Linked DNA regions of Homo sapiens: regions 1, 3, 4 and 5 are each linked to region 2. Evidence: fine-mapped expression QTL. A gene starts in region 2. Each other region holds a variant in brackets. All regions are shown on one strand. Distances are between the middles of the regions.

Region 1 (4,117 bases), 36 kb before region 2:
GTAGCCTATGTAAGTTGTGTGTGTGTGTGTGTGTGTGCACAAGTGTGCACATTTAAGGGCTCATTTTCCTAATTCGAACATTCTCTCCCACTGCCAGCCACACCACGTGGACTTTGGGAGGCTGCATAAAGGACACCTCCCTGAGGCACCTCCCTAGAGGCTTTTCATCATCCATGTCCTGAGAGTCCTGTCCTCCTCCCAGCCCCAGCAGGAGTAGGCCCCACTTTTCTGACATAGTTAGATGGGGAAAGATGGTGGCAGAATCACTGTCTGCATGAGCAGCAGCATCTTCCAAGGAACTGCTGAGTGTGAAGATGCCCAAGCCTTCCAAGCCAAAGCCCAGGCCCAACCATTTCCTTCCTGGAGATGAGCTACTGACGTCATCTGCTCAGGGGCCAGGCATTAGTTAGGATTCTTGGTAAAACATGACTCACTGTTCACATTCACTAGAACATACATGGGGTTGAGGGGAATCGCACTCATCAATTGTCAAGCTTGCTCTAGCAAATGGACAGCTGGGGACCACACCGACTCAGCCCCTGGGATAGAGAAGAGACCAGAGTAGGGCTCTACTGGCAGTCCCAGGCAGGCCCAGACTCTTAGATCCACAGAGGGCCCAAGAGACCGTCAGTGTAACTCCCTCCCTTTATACGTGGGACCACTGAGGTTAAGAAACTTACAGGTGAGGATATTCAGCAAGAAGTGCAGGCTCCTAGGTCTGGAAGTCTTAGGGATCTAAGGCTTAGCCTTTAGCTTCCTGGATTGTTTTCAACCCCAGAAACTTAAAGTGCTCAGTGAAGTTGATGCCCCAAACAGCCCCAGGTGGCTCAATGCCAAGAATGACCCAACAGTCAAGGAAGCAGCTGCTGTTGGTTTTGGACCTTGGCTCTGGTACCCTGCTGTGACAACCCTCATCACCCAAGGGGCCTACTGCAGAGCCAGGGTTGTCAGGAGGTGGAGCAGCACCAGGCTATCAGGGGCTCCTTAGCTCCAAGTCTAGCCCGCCTCAGGCCCAGTCCTAACCCTGCAGTAGCTAACAAGAAAGAAGTTATACGCCAGGCTTTTTTCCATCTTCGTAGAAACAAAAAGCCTTTTGCCGTTCACCTCTATTTGTTTACTGCTGCTTTTCTGGAGGGACAAGAGAATATGGAAGCATCTTGGGAACTGTTAGGGTTCCCCAGAAACGAGATACAATTATCCCCACAGGGACATCTGTATGTTCCAGGACATGAGATTGGTGTCCCTCCCACCAACCTTGTGGTTCTTGAGGCTTCATCCGTCACCACAAATGCTCAGGCCTCAGAATGCCCGTAATTCTCTAAACTTACTCAAGGACCAGAAGTTTCTATTTCAGAAGAAACTCTCATTTCCTTTTTTTTTTTTTTGTTTTTCAACAACCGGGCATTTCGCTCTGGTCACTGAGGGGCTGCTCTGTCCTCCCACTGGCTGTCTTGTCTGGCTCAGAGCTCTTCCTGTTAAGCCTGCAAGGCCATGGGCACCAAGAAGACAGCACATCGTCAGCCTAGCCCAGCCACCACCTACAGTGATGTGAGCCAAAGCCTCTCACCAGACTGGGCCCGGGACTGAGAGCTTCTTGAGGCCCCAGGGCCTATCAGAGGCCCCGTCTGTCCTTCCCCAGGCTCCAGGGAGCCTGCCTTTGACCCTCACTTGGGGGCAGCCCCCCCAGCTGCAGGGTTGCCTGAAAAGAGATTCCACTGCTTCGCCATCTTTCTCTCATTTTTCTCATGTCACTTTAAATATGAAGCTCCATCTCAGATGTCTATAC[G/A]CAGGAGGGTTGGAGATTGCCACTCAGCCCCACTTTGCCTGACAACAGGAATGAGGCTAGGAATAGGAAGAGAAGGCCGGGCGCGGTGGCTCACACCTGTAATCCCAGCACTTTGGGAGGCCGAGACAGGCGGATCGCGAGGTCAGGAGATCGAGACCATTGTGGCTAACACGGTGAAACCCCATCTCTACTAAAAATGCAAAACATTAGCCGGGCGTGTTGGCGGGCGCCTGTAGTCCCAGCTACTCGGGAGGCTGAGGCAGGAGAATGGCGTGAACCCGGGAGGTGGAGCTTGCAGTGAGCTGAGATCGTGCCACTACACTTCAGCCTGGGGGACAGAGCGAGACTCCATCTCAAAAAAAAAAAAAAAAAAAAAAAAGGAATAGGAAGAGAAAATAGTGCAGAGCTGAATTAAGAGAAAGTACTGGGACTGGGTGCAGTGGCGTGAGCACGCCTGTAAGCCCAGCACTTTGGGAGGCTGAGGTGGGCAGATAGCTTAGGCTCAGGAGTTTGAGACCAACCTGGCCAACATGGTGAAACCCTGTATCTACAAAAGATTAAAAAAAATTAGCCAGGCATGGTGGCATGCGCCTGTGGTCTCAGCTACTTGGGAGGCTAAGGTGGAAGGATCGCTTGAGCTGGTGAGGTCAAGGCTGCAGTGAACCAAGATTGTGCCACTGCACTTCAGTGTGGGTGACAAAGTGAGATCCTGTCTCTAGAAATAAAAAATAAAAGAGAAAGTACTGGGGGTAAAAAAAAAGTTTGGCGCCCTTGCTTCTGCTTAAGAGTTGTCATATGAAGCCCGAGAACACTGAAAAGGAAGAGGACACCATTACGCTCTGGAGCGTGGGGTCAGTGTTCAGGGTATAGAAAGTTTGCTCCCCAGCTCCAACTGCCAGACCCAGAGGCTCTCTGGAACTCAGATCCCAGAGCTGGCCTTTCAGGTGTGTCTGGCCCAACATGTCTGTTTGCTGGGCCACAGATCCTCTTGGCTCAGAGGTCCTGTTCTTCCCTGTTCTCCTGCCTTCCAAGGGCACTTCCACATGTGTGGCTGTCATTTACTCTCTGCCCACGAGGAGTCAGGGCAGCCAGACTGCCCAACCCTGGCTCTGTGCTTTGTCCTGAAGGTCTACACCCTACCCTGCCTTCCTCCCAATACTAATTGCCTGTGAGCTGGTTTGGATTTGAGAAACAAGAGCTTCAGGTTTCCATGAGAGCCCATTGCCTCAGCTGCTCTCTGAGCCTGGACCCTGTCATCCTCTGGTTGGTTGGCATTTATACCCCAGCTCAGGAAGGGGGGGTAGGGGTGGGGCAACCAAGCTAAATATAGATGCAGTTTCTAGAAAGCCAGGGGTGAGAGAGGACATTGACCGATTCTCATGCCAGAGACCAGTTTATCAAAACAGAAAGAGACAAAAACCTCACAAAAGCATCAAGAGCCTGGGGCCAGGGCCTCAGGCCTGGGACAGTTGGGCCTTTCTCCAGTAGGTGGCCTCTGCCAGCAGAGACGCACGTTGCATAACCCAGGCGTAGGGTCAACTATCCCCTCTGGGCTCCATCTCCACTGCACTGTCACAGAGATTCCAGCGTCTGCTCAGGATACAGGAACTAGCGAGAGCTCCTGATCTGAAAGCTATGTGAGGTGCTGGGAATGCTTACTAGTTTGATTATGGTGATCATTTCACAATGTATATGTATAGCAGAACATCGAGTTGTGCACCTGAAATATAGACCATGTCTATCTGTCAATTATACCCCAGCAAATCTAAAGGAATAAAAAGACCTACATCAAATGATGTAGGGGCCTACATGTATGTGAGAGGCAGCATCAGGGGGTTCTCCTCAGGTGGGTTTAAAAAAACATTAAAGGATGGTTAGCACTGTAGAAAAGAGCACAGACTTTTTTTTTTGGAGGGCAATTGGCAATGCGAAGCATGTTAAACACACAGACATTTTAACGCAGTAAAGCCACTTCCAGGTATTTATCCTGTGGGTAGATCGGTCCATGGGCGCAATGGTGGTTACTGCAGCTCTGTCTGGAGAAGCCAAAGACCGAACCTAAATGACCATGACAGAGGACTGGTTTCTTTCTTTTCTCTTTCTTTCTCTTTCTCTTTCTTTCTTTCTTTCTTTCTTTCTTTCTTTCTTTCTTTCTTTCTTTCTTTCTTTCTTTCTTTCCTTTCTCTCTCTCTCTCTCTTCCTTCCTTCCTTCCTCTCTTTCTCTCTTTCTATCTGTCTGTCTATCTGTCTTTCCTTCCTTCCTTCCTTCTTTTCTCTCTTTCTTTCTTTTTTTTTTTTTTCTGGATGGAATTTCACTCTGTCACCCACGCT
Region 2 (4,117 bases):
CAAGTCACAGCTGATCAAGACCAGCCAAACCCAAAGCCATGGGACCCAGCCAGAGCATAGACTGTGAATTCCCCAGCTTTTTGCAGTTTGAGTCAGCCCCACAGCTGGATTGGCCTCCCAGGACTCTTCTCAAATAGGTCCAGAGAGGCTGCTGAGTGGGGGCCACGGACTCTGCAGGGAGGGCTACTTCTGTTCAACGATCTCTAGCACCCAAAACAAAAGCCAGGGAGAAATGTGCAGTCTTACTACCTTCTGGTCTGGCTGCATGCCAGCCCTGAGACTGTTTCAGAAAGACTCACAGTTCCCTCCAGCACTTGGACAGGGAAGGGACGGCAGGTCTCTCAACACACAACACTCTTAGTCCATAGAATTGAGGCTCCAATGTTCAGATAACCCATTTCTACCTCAGCAAATCACCCTCACTCCCTAGCCTGAGTTAAAGCCTTCTTTGCCAACACCATGACTTCTCTGGCCCCAGACTTTCCTAATTTCTTTTGCTCACCCCCTTCACTAGCAGAGATGGGCTGCTAATGAGACCACTAGGCAGAAATGGAAGGAAGGGCTGGAAAAGCCTGCAGTGCTGGGATGCACCTCCTTATCCCAGGAGAAAGATGAGATGTAGATTTATCATAAAGCCACTATCCCTTCACGGTCACCTCCTGCTAGAATCATCTCATAGCCATTCCATAAGCACTGCTGTGTTGGGTATCTGAGCCCCTGCCCATGAGGAAGACCACCTTCCAGCAGGGAGCTGGAGCAGAGCTGAACTCTGCCCAGGAGAGCTTCTGCAATGCTCAGAAAATGCCTGCCCAACTGCTTGCCTGGGCTCTGGCCCCTTTGGCTGCAACTGAGCCCAGACAGGAGGCTGACTCACTCACCGCACGCATAGAGGAGGAGGAGGAACAAGAGGAGGAGGAGGAGGAGGAGGAGAAGGAGGAGGAACTGTGAGAAGGGTCTGGGCTTGGAGACCTAAGGCTCCCCCAGCCCAGGCTAGGTCTCAGACTCTGGTCCCTGGGTGAAGAGAAGGAGGGGCAGTTGTACACTGGCCCTGGAGACCACAGGCTGTTCCCTCCTAGATACTTCTGAATCTTCCTCACCACCACCCACAGATCCAGGGCACCTCACTTTTCAAACAGAAACTACTCCTTGAGCCCCTTCCTCATTTAAATGCTTGCCCCTGAGTTCCTCTGAACATCTATTGACAGGCTGTCCTGAAAAAAAATAGGGCCAATTAGGTCTAAACTCATTGGTAGTTCAAAGAAAAGTAAAAAAAAAAAAAAAAAAAAAAAAATTACTTAAAAGACCCAACTCCACCATCACAGGTGACCATACCTGGGCCCTGTAAGACAATAAATAAGGTTACACACCCTCCACTCCAGCAGTTCTGAGCACCATCGACAGCCAATCGCTCCTTTTCTTATTCCTCCACTCCATGCCAAGGCGCCCCGACAGAAGAAGGAAACAAATACTTCTTGTTGCCCAAGTGCTAAGCACTGTGTTAGCGGAGCATTTCTCCTAAGCGCCGAGGATGTCGCTGCTCCCCTCGCCAGCCTGGCACGAACTTCAGCTTTCTCAAACCTCAGTGCCCCTTAGTGTCCCAGCCTCATGGCACGACAGCCCGGACCTCAGTAGCCAAGTTTACCGCTGAGACTTAGACTCTAATGCTCGCAGCCGGGCGCTCAGGCCCCGGTATCCCAGACGCCCCGACCCCGAGTCCCTATCCTGAGACCCCCTTTCCCGCTGCTCCCGGGTTCGCACCTGGTCCGGCCGGCGGGTGGACAAGCTGTTCCGCGCTCCCGGCGCACACGGCTCCGCTGCCGCCTTTTGACAAGCAGAGACAGCCCAGCACCTGGCCCCGCCTCTCGGTCAGGCCCCGCCCCGGCCCCGCCCCGCCCCTCCGCCCCGCCCACAGGTCCAGTCCTCTCTTGCCAGGAGCTCCGTTGGCGCTGCAACCATCTTGACTTGGAATCAACCACCCTATAGGCCACGCTGTAGCCTTAGATACTCTAACTCGTGAAATTTTCATCGACCGTCGTCCATAGGGCAAGGCACGCTTCTGCCCTCTGTGGGACAGAGTTGTCGATGATTATAGGTGCGGATACCCGCTTCAGCCTGTGTTAATCGGGGATGCAGCCCCCCACCCTTCCTGCCGTGGTTCTACCCAGCCTGCTGCGGACGCCTGAGCCAGGTGCGTCACCCCCACCTGGGCTGACCAGGCCAGGACTTCGTCGTCCGCGGGACGCTGGGGGGCGCCTGCCGACTGGCACCGGCGGCTAGCTCCGCACGAATGGGAAATCCCGGGCTCCGCTCGCCAACCTGTTACTGCTGCAGAACGCCAGGAAGCTCAGCCTGATCCCACAGATTAGGGTAAAATATCCCGGGGGGCCGAAGTGGAAACCGGAGTTGCGTCATTGCTCCCACCCGATATCACCTTGGCAGCGACCGCGGCTGACCACGTTCCCGGCCTGTCGCGAATCTCACCCAAGGGAGCTGAGTCTCAGCTTCCCTGGTCCCTGGTCCCGAGTTCCGCCTTCCCCCCCCGCCCCGTGGCATCGGCGTGAGGGGAAAAGATAAAGACTACCTCCTGAGACCTGGAATTGTGGATGGCTGCGGAAAACTCACCACAGGAAATTTTGGCTTAAAGTTATTCTCTGCTTCCCTTGACTGTGTGATAGGCACCGCTCTATCTGCTAGAGGACAGGTGAAAAAGATGGGGTTCCCTCTTCTTAGAACTCACTGTGCAGTGGGAGAATGTATAAATAAATAGTAATTACAACATAATCTTCTGGAATAGAAATGCTCACAAAATCATCCAGCAGTCGATGACCTCCTTTAGCCAGGGAAGATATTGCTATTCGCCTCTTACAGAGGAGGAAACCATGGCTCAGAGGGACAAGGTGAAAGGGTGGGAAATTGAGGCATAGAAAGTTTAAGTGATATGCCCAACATGACTCAGCTAATCAATGAAGGACTAGTGCTAGAGCCCAGCAAATCTGCTGGTGCAATGGTCTCTGAACCATTTCTGAGACAGCTATGCTGGACTACATCATAACCAGCCCCTCACAACTCAATAATAGGGTTAAAAGAAATAGACTGAGATTAAATAGAAGGAAGAACCTTCCAACAGTGAAGTTTGTTAAGCACTGCAACAGTTCATTATGGAGGTATCATGGCAACTTTCTGGGAAGACTTAAACAAAAGACAGAAGAGAGGCATAGCGTTTGATTGAACTTGGGAATGGACCATTTATTCTGAGAAACAGATGAAGTGCCCCTTTAGAGGTCCTGCCAGTCTGATGGATGGATTCTCTACCTGTAATGAAAGTAATAGGAAGGATCCCCTTGCCCAAAGCATCGTGGGAAAGCTAGCGGTGATTCTTGTGGGAAGAAAAGCATAAGAGGAAATTTCCAACCACCAATACCTTGGGACATTCTCTGCAAGTCCCATGAGCCTCTGAAAGAGGTTGAACACTCAGAAGTCACTTTTGTGGTGCTTGACTGGCCTGACATCTTGCAAATAAACCTTATCAAAAGATGGTGGAAGATGCGTACTAAGTATTCCGTAGTAACTGAGAGTTAGTCTTTTTTCACAGCCTTTGTTGGAGGAGAGGTACTTGTAATTCACATGTGTAAACTGCTTTATAATTTAAAAATTCTTTGGAATATCTTACTTGATCTTTATCATAGCCTTTTCAGACATGAAGAGTAAAAAATACCGTTCCATTGTACAACTGATGTGCAGAGTTGTCAAGGTTTCTACAGCTGAGGAGTGTCAGAGCTACTGGACCCAGATCTTCTCTCTGCACATCCCACTGTTTCATGCTGCCTCTAAAAAACAAAAAAAAAATTTCCATGCATGCACTTTTCACAGAGTTGAAGAACTCAGAGGTTCTGCGTTTGGCAGATGGGCAAGATTATAGATGTCATCACGGTCCCCAGCACATGCCGTCATCAGCCCCGTCACCTTGTCTGTAACCATGTTCTTCCCATATTCCCCCAATACCTGAACTGTTCTCTCTCATCCACCTCTCCAGACCCTCTCCTCTTTCAGGTCCTGCCTATTCCATCAGGCTTTTCCAACATCTCCAGGAAAGGAACTGTCAATTCTCTGGTCTTTG
Region 3 (4,117 bases), 50 kb before region 2:
AGCTGAGGCTGGCAGATCACCTGAGGTCAGTAGTTCAAGACCAGCCTGGCCAAGATGGTGAAACCCCAACTCTACTACTAAAAATACAAAACTAGCCAGGCGTGGTGGTGCGTGCCTGTAATTTCTGCTACTCAGGAGGCTGAGGCAGGAGAATTGCTTGAACCCAGGAGGCAGAGGTTGCAGTAAGTTGAGATCGCGTCATTGTACTCCGGCCTGGGCAACAAGAGGGAAACTCTGTCTCAAAAAAAATACAAAAAATTAGCCAGGCATGGTGGCACGCTCCTGTAGTTCCAGCTACTTGGGAGGCTGAAGCAGGAGAATTGCTTGAACCTGGAAGGCGGAGGTTGCAGTGAGCTGAGATCGCGCCATTGCACTCCAGCCTAGGTGAAAAGAGCGAAACCGTCTCAAAAAAGAAAAAAAAAATTAACACTGCATGAGTATTTAAATATAAGTATTATATACAGTACTAGTGTTAAAACAATGAAACATAGGAATAAATGAATGAAATTTATATGAATGAATTGATAAAGGAGGATCCCTTCTCCAGTAGAACTCCTTATACTTATATATTTTGGCAAAAATGTATCAGTATGGTTAGGAAATGGTCTTTATTTTTTTCTTTTTTGAGACAGGGTCTTGCTCTGTTGCCCAGGCTGGAGTGCAGTGGTGAAATCATGGATCACTGTAGCCTTGACCTCCTGGGCTCAAGTGATTCTCCTGCCTCAGCCTCCCTAGTAGGTGGGACTACAGGCATGTGCAACCACACCTGGCTAATTTATAATTTTTTTTTTTTGTAGAGAAGAGGTCTCACTATGTTGATCAGGCTGGTCTGGAACTCCTGGGCTGAAGCAATCCTCCTACCTCAGTCTCTCAAAGTGTTGGGATAGGCATGTGCCACTGTGCCCAGCCAGGAAATGGTCTTTAAATGTACATTTTGGTGAAGGATGCCAGGGTCATATATGCCAGTAAACCTATCTCTCTCCAGGATTCCTAGACTGTTTCACAAGTCTACATGGCCAAGCCCTTCTCTCTATCACTTCATTCTGCTCTCAGAGTTGGGGTGTGGAGGAATCATATCGTTGAATTTAAAGAGATAATATGAGGATTCCAGTCAAGCCAGCTGGAGTGAACACAGCAGTGAGCTGGGAGTTCTAGGCCTGGCTCTGACATGCTGGCTCCAACACCTGGAAGGGATCCTGGCTGGCCATTGGACCTCTCTGGGCTTCCACACCATCATCCAGAAAGTGCGGGGATGGACTAGCTCTCCAGTGCTGGCCTGCAGAGTAACGCAAGACAGGCTGCACTTTCTAAATACAGATTTCTGGGCCTACGCCAGAGATTCTGATTTCGCAGGTCTAGGGTAGGGTCTGAATCTCTATTTTAAAGAAGCAATGGAGGCTGGCTGCTGTGGCTCATGCCCGTAATCCCAGCACTTTGGGAGGCTGAGGTGGGTGGATCACTTGAGGTCAGGAGTTTGAGACAAGCCTGGCCAACATGGCGAAACTCCGTCTCTACTAAAAATAAAAAAATTAGGGCAGGGCGCGATGGCTCATGCCTGTAATCCCAGCACTTTGGGAGACCAAGGTGGTTGGATCACGAGGTCAGGTGATCGAGAGCAGCCTGGCCAACGTGGTGAAACCCCGTCTCTACTAAAATTATAAAAATTAGCCGGGCTTGGTGGCCCACACCTGTAATCCCAGCTACTTAGGAGGCTGAGGCAGGAGAATCACTTGAACCCGGGAGGCGGAGGTTATAGTGAGCCAAGATAGTGCCACTGCACTCCAGCCTGGGCATCAGAGCGAGAATCTGTCTGGAAAAAAAATAAAAATAAATAAATAAATAAATAAATAAATAAATTAGCCGGGCGTGGTGTCTGGTGCCTGTAATCCCAGCTACTTGGGAGGTTGAGGCAGGAGAATCGCTTGAACCTAGGAGGCGGAGGTTGCAGTGAGCCGAGATCGCGCCACTGCACTCCAGCCTGCGTGACAGAGCAAGATGCCGTTTAAAAAAATAAAAAATAAAAAAAAGAAGTGGTGGATGAGTGATCTCCAACCCTTCTTGTAGCTCAGTCTAGGACTCTGACTCTGTTCCCCAGAGATTGCAGAAGTTTCTTACCTGAATCCTGGTATCATCTTAGCAAAGCCAATGACCTTTTGGATGCTGTAACTGACCAGGTCAGCCAGGTGGGGCAGCATGGAGAGCTGGGACAGCTCTAGGGTCACAGAAGGGTCATCTGAATCTTCTTCACTCAGATCCAGATTGGAGAAGCTGGACGAGTCCATCATGTCTGGGAGAGATGAGGGAAGAGAAGGAGCTATTTAAGGATACTTGGACCAGGCCCCCTCCTGCCAGACCCTGCAAAAACCTGGTGTGCCCTGGCAGCAGAGCCAGCTGGGAATCCCACAGTGACTCCACAGGTCACCCTTCAGCCCCAGGCTTCCCTCTGGGACTCTCTCTGCCTCTTTCAGCAGCATAAGGCAGTAAAATCAAAGAGCCAGAGACACTCAGAGCAATGAGACTTCCTCAAGCAGACTGTGTGCTGTTCCTATGGATCTCAATCAA[G/A]AAAGAATTTGGGACCCATCAAGTCATGGAAAAAAATGTTCAACCTTGCTAATGGTCAAAGAACTGCAGTGTAGAACATCTATAATTTTCACCTACAAACCAGAAACAAAAATGTTTAAATATTGATGCCAGTATTTATAAAGATGCAGGAAATTAGGCAATGCCTATGAGGGCTGGGGTGCTAAAGGAGGTGCACATTACTGAAGGTACTCTAGAAAGCTATTTGACATTAGTCAAATAATTGTGTGTACTCTTTGACCAGTAGTCACACTTCCTGGAATTCATTGTAAGGGAAAATTTCCGATAAGTGTAAATATTTGGCTACAAGTATACTGTTTTCTTATTAAAATGCTGAGAAATAATCCAGATATCCAATGGTAGGGGATTAGGTACATTATTGTATTCCAGAATACTATGCAGCCCTTAAAAATTATATTCTGGATGCGTACTAACTGGTATGGAAAAACAATGCCATATAAAAAAAAGCAAGTCATCAGATTGTATACAGCACAATTTCTTTTCTAAATATACATATGTGTTTTTTTTAAAAAAAAAAAAAAAAAGAAAGGAAGGAAAGCATGATGCCTCCCAGACTCTCAGCTGAGCTGGAGGGGACAGGTCCTCCAGGGCCAGAGTGGTCCCCAGAGCTCAAGTGGAAGGTGGACCTCAATAGGACCAACACGTTCACCTTCCCACTCCAAATTTCACCTTCTGAAGGGCCCAGGATTAAAATATCACGTAAAGGAAGCAGGTCACCTCCACGGAGGGGGCCATGGGCTGAAGCCTGGCTTAGAGGAAACAGCATGGGCCCGGGAGGCTGATGCTACACAGCTGGAATCCCAGCTTGGCCTCTTCCCCAGTGTGGGCCCTTGGGTAAGTCACCCCTTTCTGTAACAGAGGGGCTGTTGTGAAGACGCTGCATAGCGCACAGTATTTATGTAAGTTTCCATTAGGGAGCCTTCCACCTCCTTCCATCCAGCAGCCCCAGGGCAGGTGCGGTGGACTCCTCGCCCCCGCTCCCTTACTCTATGGAGGACTGAAGTCCTGCTTACCTGAAGAGGTGATACAGTGATCTGAGCAGGAGGAGGAGGAGTCCCCAGAGAAGCTGGGAGTGTGTCTGGAGTTGGGCCTGGAAGGATGGCTCCCTCCACCATCATTCACACGAACTGGAGGCTGGAAGGGAAAGATGGGGTCTCAGACCCACATTTTGGGGTTGCCTTCCTACCTTGGCCCTGATCTCTGATAGGAATGGCTTTGAGGAAGGTCTACAGGAAGGCGAAGCCTCCCAGTGCCAGGGGCAGAGCAGCCTCCGTCCCTACCCCAGTTCTGTTCAGGATGTCCCCTGCCCTCTGTCCCTACTCCCTGGGCCCTGGCTCCACTAGTGCTTCTCCTCTGGACCGGCTCATCCTCCCAGCAGGCAGACATACCCGGAACTGGCAGAAGTCGGAGTAGGTGGGGTCGTAGGTCTTATGGTGGGCGTCCAGCAGTATGGCAATGATGCGCTGCTGCTCCTCAGACAGCTTGGGCCGCAGACTGTCCTTCAAGGCCTCCTCCT
Region 4 (4,117 bases), 60 kb before region 2:
CCGCGCCGGGCCTGTCCTGGCCCACTTCTAGCTAGTTATATATGCTTGGGTGAGTCACGCCCTCCTCTGTCAGTTTTCCTGAATGAGGGGATTGACTCGTTTAGCAACTTACAAGTGTTTTCTCCCACTGAAGAGCAAGCTGGACCAATACGTTCTGCAGCTAAAATCAAACAAGGGTCTCTCCCTAGACCCTTGTAAAATAACAACAGCAATAATAATTAATGTACAGAAGTTTCACAATGTAAGTTCTCCCCCCATAAATATCTCCAAATCAGTGGTACCTGCTACCCTGTATATTAGACTATAATACAAATGGAGTCTGAGTCTGAAAACAACTCATATCTAATAAATTTAAGATTAAGCGATATATATGCTATTCTGCAGTAAGGAACGTGGCTTTCAGATGTTTTTCCACCTGAAGAATTCTGAGAGACATGGGGCCAGGTGGACACCAAGGCTCTTGCAGTGTGAAGTCTGATTCCTCTCTGGGTTTTCAGGGAACTACGGATGCAGGTGCAAGGACACAGCTTCCAGGAGTTGGGGCAGTCACGTTCCCACTGACTTTAACATTCCTGGTGACTCAGGGAATGCGGCCGCATTCCCCAAACTCAAGCACTGATCTGAAGAAGCCTCTGTGATCCACCTCGAAGAACGCCTTTCTGTACCGGTCCCGCACACCTACAGCTCACTCTCACAAAGACCCCACCTTGGAGTAAACGGACAGACGCTTCCCACCAGCTGGGCTGGGCTGGCTGCAGAGAGCATGCACTTGAAGTTGTATCACTCCGCCCCTGCCTCACAGGCACCTTTTGACTTTTGGGTGGTGGAGTGAGAATAAGAAGGCACCTTACCCTACATCACGGAACCCCCAAACACTCTCTCTGACTAGCCACCCGAGACTGCCCCGCTCTCCCTTCCCACACTCTGGGGTGCGGCAGCGCTAGCTCTTAGCCCTGTGGGTGAACAGCGGCCTTGCAACCACATTGAGGCGGCAGGGAGATCATGACTCAGCCGCTGGGGTCTGAAAATTCTTCTCCTCCATCCCACCCTGCCAGATGGAGAAGATGCGGCTCACTGCTTCTCCAGACCCTCTCCCCTGGGGAGGGGGTGGGGGAGCAGGCTCTCGGCTACTCTCGGTGATCCGAGGAGGACAGGGAGGGCTGGCTCTCCTGGGCAGGAGGTAAGGCACTGGCAGGGGGAGGACGAGGTCGGCAGGTGCTTTTCTGCAAACTGGGGACAATTCAGTCCTGCTACATGGATCCGTGGAAGGAGGGCTTCCACCTCAACCAACCCCTTAGACCCAGGGCGAGGAACTGTGAGCTTGGTGACAGGGACAGCTGTCATATTCTTCTGTGAGGCTGTTTTTGTCTGTTTTTCCTCCTTGGGTCTCTCAGCAGGTGGGTTCGTGCCTGGTGCTCCAGTGATGGGAAGAAAACCCACCTCACCACAGCTACTGCCCGTGAGAATATAACCAGGGCAATGGGATGTTGGTGGGCACTGAAGGGGGTGGGGTGGGAGCTGTGGG[C/A]CGATTATTTATCGTGAGTAGGCAGGAGAGGGAGACCCCACTAGGCGCTGGACAAGCGGGGCCTGCAGTGGGGGGAGGTGCAGGTGTCTCTGTCCCTGAGGAATGGATGCATTTCTCCTGTCTGTTCCCTCAACATCAGTCAGCAGCCACTTAGGCAGCGGTGGAGGCATCTCTGGGCAAGGCCCTGCCTCCAGCCTCTGCCCTCTGCCCCCACTTGGGTTTCTTTGTCAAACAAACAGCAACTCCTCATGGCTGAGGTCTCAAGGGACCGGGGAAAAGCCCGCAGGAAAGGGGTTAGGTTGGACAGGAGAGAGAATGGGCTGGGTGGATAGGGGAGGTGGCAGAGGAGGGGCTGAACCCCAGACGGGGTGAGGAGGGCTGCTGAGTAGCCGCCAGCCCCGGGCCTGGCACGTGGCCCTGGAGGAGCAGCCCCACCCAGGCACCGCCACAGGCTGTCCTAGTCAGGAGATCTCATTGCCAAACACTTCGAGCACAAGGGGCGTTAGCTTCATGCTGCACTCAGGCTGGAAGGAGAGGCAGCGGTACTGCTTGGAGTGCTCCTCATTGAGGCTGCGCAGGTCGGCTAGCTTCTGGATCATCTTGGCATAGAGCAGGTGGCTGCCCGGGGGCGGGTGGCGGCAGCGGATGTACGTCTGCAGTGTGTTGGACAGGCGGTCCTGGATGGCCTCAATCAGCGCGGCGTCCTGCACCCCAGGACGATCTGTGGGCACGGGGATAGAGAAGAAGGCACAGGAGCTCTCAGCTGGGCCCCTCACTGCTCAATCCCACCACCCCCCACCCACACAGACACTCAACGGCAGCACCCCCTAGGCCACCCCTCTATGACTGCTGACCGGTGATACCACTGCCTGGCCCCAAAGCCCTCCAGTGACTTCTCCGTGCATTTAGGATCCAGACCTAGGTCCTTCCATGGGCGCACCTGGCCCTGTCCCTGCCTGGCCTTGCTCCCTGTCCATGCTCTGTCCATCCCTCAGCGTCCCGATGCGCCATGCTCTCTGGCCACCAGCCTTCACATCTGTGCTCCCTCTGCTTGGAACTCTGCTCTGCTATCTTTGCCAGACTCTTACTGATCCTTTGGATAACAGCTTAAAAGGTCTTCCTCCAAAAGGCCATTCCTGGCAACACTCTACCTCTGTAGCCCAGACCACGTCAGCTTCCCTCCTTCTATTCTACCCTTCTGTAGCATCACTTACTTTATTTTTAAAACTCTTGCCTTGTTAGGAATTAATAATTAAATAACATTTGTTTAATGTTTCCTCCTAAGCTTCATGGGAGAGGAGCCTGTGTCCCATTTGCTGCTGAACCCCAGTACCTAGCATAGTGCCTGGTACCTAATAGGTGCTCAATAAATTGTTGCTAAGTGGATGAATGAATGAGAGAAGGCTGGCTGGGCAGGGGTAGAGGAGCCCATCTCCATTCCTTGAGCCTCCAGTCCAGGAAAGCATCCCTGGGCACAGGCCACTAGCACAGGCTGAGGCAGGGCCGCCCCTCTTTGGACCTCATCACCGACATCATGTCCCCAAGGTCACAATAACTTCCTCTTCGGCCTTTTCTCCCTCTTCTCACCTCTAACCAGCGGAAGAGGTCAAGGGTCACTGCACATTGCCTCCAAAATCAATCAGGTAAACTATATAGGCAGAACCATCTCTCAGGCTCCAAAGTTTTGTACCCTGCCCGCAAGAAACCTCAAATAACAGGAATGTTGAGCCCAGTTCACGCAAGAGCAGAGCCTGAGTATTGGGAATGCGCAGGCCTGTCTGTGGCCCCAGGAACCCTGCTTATCTAGTTCCTCAGAATCCCCCCTACGAATCGCCTGCACACTCTGCAAGGCAGAGCTAAGGGCAGTGAGGGGCACCTCAGCGTCCACACACCACAGGGGCTCTGCAAACCAGCAAAGTAGGTATTTCCTTATCTGTGTCTCCTTTTGCTACGTCTCCCTTCAGGTTGCCCAGCTGGCCCTCAGCAGGTCTTTGTCCTTCATACTCCCCGCTCCCCAGGTCCCTGAGCTCCTCCCTGCCTGGCCCCATACCTGGGGAGACGATGCAGATGGCCATGAGCAGGACATGCTCCTCCTCATGCAAGTTCAGCTTCTTCAGTCCCACCTGGAACTTGATGAGGGGCTCAATCAGCTCCAGGCTGTGTCCGGCTGTGAGAGACAATGGCCAGGTACTGCGGGCAGAGCTGAGGAGCCGCCCACCCACCTCCAACCCCATGGGTCTGACCCTCGCCCTTCTCTCCCTGTTGGTGCCTAACTCCCTCCCATGTATCTGATTGGAGCCAAACCCCAGGACGGGTGGAGCCAGAATCTGGGAGCTGAAAAAGACTCCCCAGGAGGTGGAGTCTAGGCATACCTTTGGTCACGTCACTGACGCGGTACTTGTAGTCTTGGTTGCCACAGGTCCAGGACATGTCGTCCATGGTGAAGGACTCATTGGAGCGCAACATGATGACCTCAATGGCACTTGACTTCAGCAGTACGATCTGGTCCTCAGAGGTGAGGTCTCTGCAGGGGAGGGAGGGAAGGAGGTCAGGTTACCAGTAAACGCCTTCAAGCCACACAAATCAGTTTAG
Region 5 (4,117 bases), 25 kb before region 2:
CACTGCCTGGATGTTCCAAGGTTGGCTTTCAGACCAGGACAAACAGTCCTTGGGTGAAGATATGGGTACAGATCGTGATGACCCGACAAGAGGTGCCATTTCCCTTGTTCCAAGGAACAGTTTGGATTGGATGGGAAGGCAAGCTCTGAAACCAAGTTCTTGGGCTTTCCCCAAAGACATGCCTGTCTCTTGGGTGAGGAAGCTGTGATCATCAACAGGGAGGAGGTTCACTCTGGAAGGATGGACACGTGGGTTGGTGTAGGAGGCTGTGGGTTACAGGCGTAATGGAAAGACAGAGACCCACACAGCAACCTCAGGAAAGCGATTTCCAAGAGAGTCAGAGGAACATCTGGAGCTGAGAGGAGGGAAAAGAAGATACCACTCACCAAGACCCTCCTGCTCCTGTGGCTGTGAGCGCCGCATGTTCCATGGACATTGTAAGGAAGGAGATGTGAAAAATGCAAGGGCTCCCTTCATGGAAACACCTTGCTTCTTCTCCCTCCCTTTCCACTGGGGAGAGCCTGGGAGGAGGGCTCACCTGAAGAAGCCTTTGCAGCCTTCACAGGTCATAGCATTGAAGTGAAAGCCAGTGGCTCGGTCTCCACACACCCCACAGATCCGGGGCACGTTCCGGTCAAAGTCTCCAGGGTCAGGCAGGGAAGTGCTGGCCGCCATTGCCTCCATCCCTGTAAGAACAGCAAGCAGGCCACGGTCAGAGCCAGAGTCAGTGCCAGGGCCAGCTGGCATCCTTGGTGCCACCCACCCCCAGCCTCATCCCACCGCCCCCACCCCCCACCACCAGGGAGCTCAGCAAGGGTGGGCATCTCCCCAGGGCCCAGGCCTGAGCACAGTGCCTTCGGAGCCCTCATACATGATTCGCCCTACATAGCTGGCTCAGAGCATGGCTTGGAATCAGCTGCCTGGTTTCAGATGTTGCATCTGTCAGGTTAATTTGGGTTTAGTGGTTCACCTCTGCATGCCCCCGCTGTCTGCATTGGAAGAGGTGTTTTACTTCCAGGGTGTAAGGATCATATGCATGAACCCATTCATGCTACTGGCACTAGCTCTGCCTCAGGCACAGACCTGAACCAGGTCAGGGGCTTCTATCCTGCCCAACGCCCCCTCCAAGGGAAAATGAGAGTCCTCCCTCAGCCTCAGCACCTACATGTGGAGAGAAACCCTCAGGTCTCCTCCTCTTGAGGGTGGGGGGAATTGAGGATTTAGGTGCCCTGGTCATTCCAGCCCCAGCTCCTCACAACCATAAAGCTCAGGGCTAATAGGCTTATGCCCCTGGTGTTCCTGTACCAAGACAATCAACATTTCAAGATATTTCCCCCCCCTTTTTTTGGCAATAACACTTAAAACATTATTTTGAATGTCCTTCTGAGTCATGTGAGTCCTATACAATTAATTGTGTTTTCAGAGATGGTTTTTCTAAACAGGCATTATCATCTAGAGATGGATTTCATACTTGAGGAAAAGGAGAAGAGACAGACGGAACGAAAGCCCACAGCTTTGGGAAGGCCTTCTCAGGAAGCAGCTGGCTTGACTCTTTCATTAGCCAAAACTGGGCCCCCAGCTTTGTCTGCTGCGTCTGATCCCGTCTACTGTCAGGCTCAGAGATGATTCTGGGATACCTCAGACTGCCCTGAAATGCTTTCAGACCCTACTGCCTCCCAGTTCTCCCAATTTTATCTGAATCCTCAAAAGGGTCATTACAGGTTTCAGTGACCCCTTTGACCCTAGGCAAAGGGTCCTTCTTGTCAGAAGAAAAATAAGAGAGAAAGCCAGGAAACAAGAGACAAGAACCCACTCCACCCCAGGGTACCATTTCCTCCTGCCCTTGGGTGACAGAGGCAGATTCTGGGGGCCCTTGGGAGGCTCTGAGCTACTTTTCAATGACTAGGCCCATGATCTCTGATCTAGGGTGTGGAATATCAAAGCTCATTAAGTCTTATTTCACCTTCATACCACTTCATGGTGTAGATGCTATTATCATCATCCCCTTTACAAATGAGGCCCAGAGAGGCCCAAACCTTAAGATATGTCTAGAAACCACTACTGCCAAATGAATAAAACAAATACTTTCTAAAAATTCCCCAAAGAGCTTCACACCAAGGGAAAGAAGTGGTGCAGATAAGCAAGAATATGTTATCATCAGTCCCAAAGGGACAGAGGGAATCCCGGTCACAGACCTCGGAGATTCCCTAACCTCATTTAGCTTTTCTTTTCCTGGAAACCTTAATGTATTAGGTTGGTGCAAAAGTAATTGTGGTTTTGGCCATCAAAAATAATGGCAAAGATCGCAATTACTTTTGAACTATCCTAATAGTAATAGTGACACTATTGCTAATTTCTTTCACAGCTAGATTTATACTTGC[T/C]AAACTCTAATGTATATATAATATATACATTAAATATATAAATACATATTAATATATATTATATATTAATATATATTAAATATATAAATACATATTTAATGTATATATTAAATTTTAGCAGCTACATATACATTAAAGTTTAGCAAGTATAAATATATACCTATATATAAAGAGAGAAGCACTTTCAGAAAGAGAACAAAGATCATTGCAGCGATAGCAAAGACACAGAATCAACCCAGGTGCCCATCAACTCTGGACTAGATAAAGAAAATACAGTATATGTGTGTGTGTGTGTATATATATATATATACACACACATATACTGTCCTTTTTACACACGTATACTGTCCTTTTTACACACATACACTGTCCTTTTTCCTTTGCAGCAACATGGATACAGCTGGAGACCATTATCCTAAGGAAACAAAGCCAGAAACAGAAAACAAAATAGCACATGTTCTCACTTATAAGTGGGAACTAAACATCATGTACATATGGACATAAAGATGAGAACAATGGACACTGGGAATACAAGTGGACAGGGGCAGGGGCTGAAAAACAACCTATTGAGTACTATGCTCGCTACCTGGGAGACAATTCATTCATACTCAAAACCTCAGTATCTTGCAATATACCTTTGTAACAAACCTGCACAGGTACCCCCTGAACCTATAAGAAAAGTTCAGAAAAAAAGAACAAAGGAATGATTAACAGAAACCTTTGGAGAGATGAGATCGGGGAGGGGTGTGCATTATATAGTAGCAGTATTCTATTTTTTGAGTAGTGAGCATATGGTATCTTCTTCTTATTATTATTAGCAAAACACTACATCTATGTTTTGTATATCTGTGTTTGCATGCCCTTCTGAATATACAAAACGTTTCATAATTTAAAAAACAATTAAAAATAGAAAAAGTGCTTGTGGATCTATCAACATTGTCCCCAAAGACCATCCCAAGTCCAAGCTGATGCCTGCAGGTTTTAGAACATAGCACACATTCAAGATGTGGCCAGCATCCCGGAGGCCCAATATCATTGTGGGGTAATAGGGGAAACTGTCCAGGATGCTTGTGGCTTAACCCTGGGTCAGCTGAGATGCTGCAGCTCCGAGTCATCGTGGTGTTGCTACAGAGTCTGGGTCATCCAGGCTCCCAAGTATCCGGTGGATTTCGTGGAAAACAGAGAAATCAAATGGGGGGTAGGAAGGAATATCTGTTAAATCAGTCAACACATGTTCAGCATCACATGGACTCATTTGGAGATGCTATGATGCAAGCGAGTGGAACAACATACTACCACAGCACAGCAACGGGGCAGTCCTGCAATGGGGTGGGGTGCTGCCTTGACATCAGGAAGTCTCTATGCTGGGGGTGAAGGCTGGAAAGGCTGGATCAAGCAGCCAGAGGCCCACAGTGAATGAGACCATTTCAGGGGAGCTGACAGAAGACCCAACCCTGCTTGAGGTTATTTGCTGCTATCAAGAAGCCAGCGCCCAGGACCAGAGTCCACATGTGGAGATGTCCAAGCCTCTGTGGCTTGAGAGCTGAAAGTCCCAGGAATGACAGGCAGAGACTAAAGAAGGCAGCAAAGAGAAAGAGGAGATGGGGGCTGGATAGGAAACATCAGACGCACAGGAGAGCCCAGCCAGGGTCGTGGCTGGAGCCAGCAAGCCCCATCTCCTGAGCCCTTCTCTGAACTCCCACCCGCACCCCACACACTCATGCATCTCAGTTGCA

What was found. PIP is the estimated chance that this variant, and not a neighbour inherited with it, causes the effect.
Region 1: its variant is the best candidate, but not a certain one, in a credible set for the expression of VDR in lymphoblastoid cells (GTEx, PIP 0.64).
Region 3: its variant is the best candidate, but not a certain one, in a credible set for the expression of VDR in testis (GTEx, PIP 0.61).
Region 4: its variant is the best candidate, but not a certain one, in a credible set for the expression of VDR in whole blood (INTERVAL, PIP 0.60).
Region 5: its variant is the best candidate, but not a certain one, in a credible set for the expression of VDR in whole blood (TOPMed, PIP 0.68).

The regions. Positions count from the first base shown.
Region 1 is chr12:47,867,395-47,871,511 of GRCh38, forward strand. The region is part of intron 3 of VDR (vitamin D receptor); the gene reads right to left. Among named protein-coding and RNA genes, the nearest start is that of VDR, 36 kb to the right of the region's middle. RefSeq lists enhancers at 1,099-1,599, 1,305-1,484, 1,585-1,654, 2,421-2,470. The variant G/A (reference allele first, on the strand shown) is at 1,787.
Region 2 is chr12:47,903,197-47,907,313 of GRCh38, forward strand. It overlaps VDR (vitamin D receptor), which reads right to left and starts at 1,798. Exons shown (of 10, transcript NM_000376.3): 1 at 1,759-1,798. RefSeq lists an enhancer at 208-407 and a silencer at 1,791-1,920.
Region 3 is chr12:47,853,515-47,857,631 of GRCh38, forward strand. It overlaps VDR (vitamin D receptor), which reads right to left. Exons shown (of 10, transcript NM_000376.3): 5 at 3,990-4,117; 6 at 3,615-3,735; 7 at 2,116-2,287. Among named protein-coding and RNA genes, the nearest start is that of LINC02354, 26 kb to the left of the region's middle. The variant G/A (reference allele first, on the strand shown) is at 2,563.
Region 4 is chr12:47,842,760-47,846,876 of GRCh38, forward strand. It overlaps VDR (vitamin D receptor), which reads right to left. Exons shown (of 10, transcript NM_000376.3): 8 at 3,898-4,049; 9 at 3,576-3,692; 10 at 1-2,246. The coding sequence ends at 1,987. Among named protein-coding and RNA genes, the nearest start is that of LINC02354, 16 kb to the left of the region's middle. RefSeq lists enhancers at 450-1,023, 1,024-1,596, 3,121-3,622. The variant C/A (reference allele first, on the strand shown) is at 1,526.
Region 5 is chr12:47,878,430-47,882,546 of GRCh38, forward strand. It overlaps VDR (vitamin D receptor), which reads right to left. Exons shown (of 10, transcript NM_000376.3): 3 at 539-686. The coding sequence starts at 684. Among named protein-coding and RNA genes, the nearest start is that of VDR, 25 kb to the right of the region's middle. RefSeq lists an enhancer at 4,112-4,117. The variant T/C (reference allele first, on the strand shown) is at 2,382.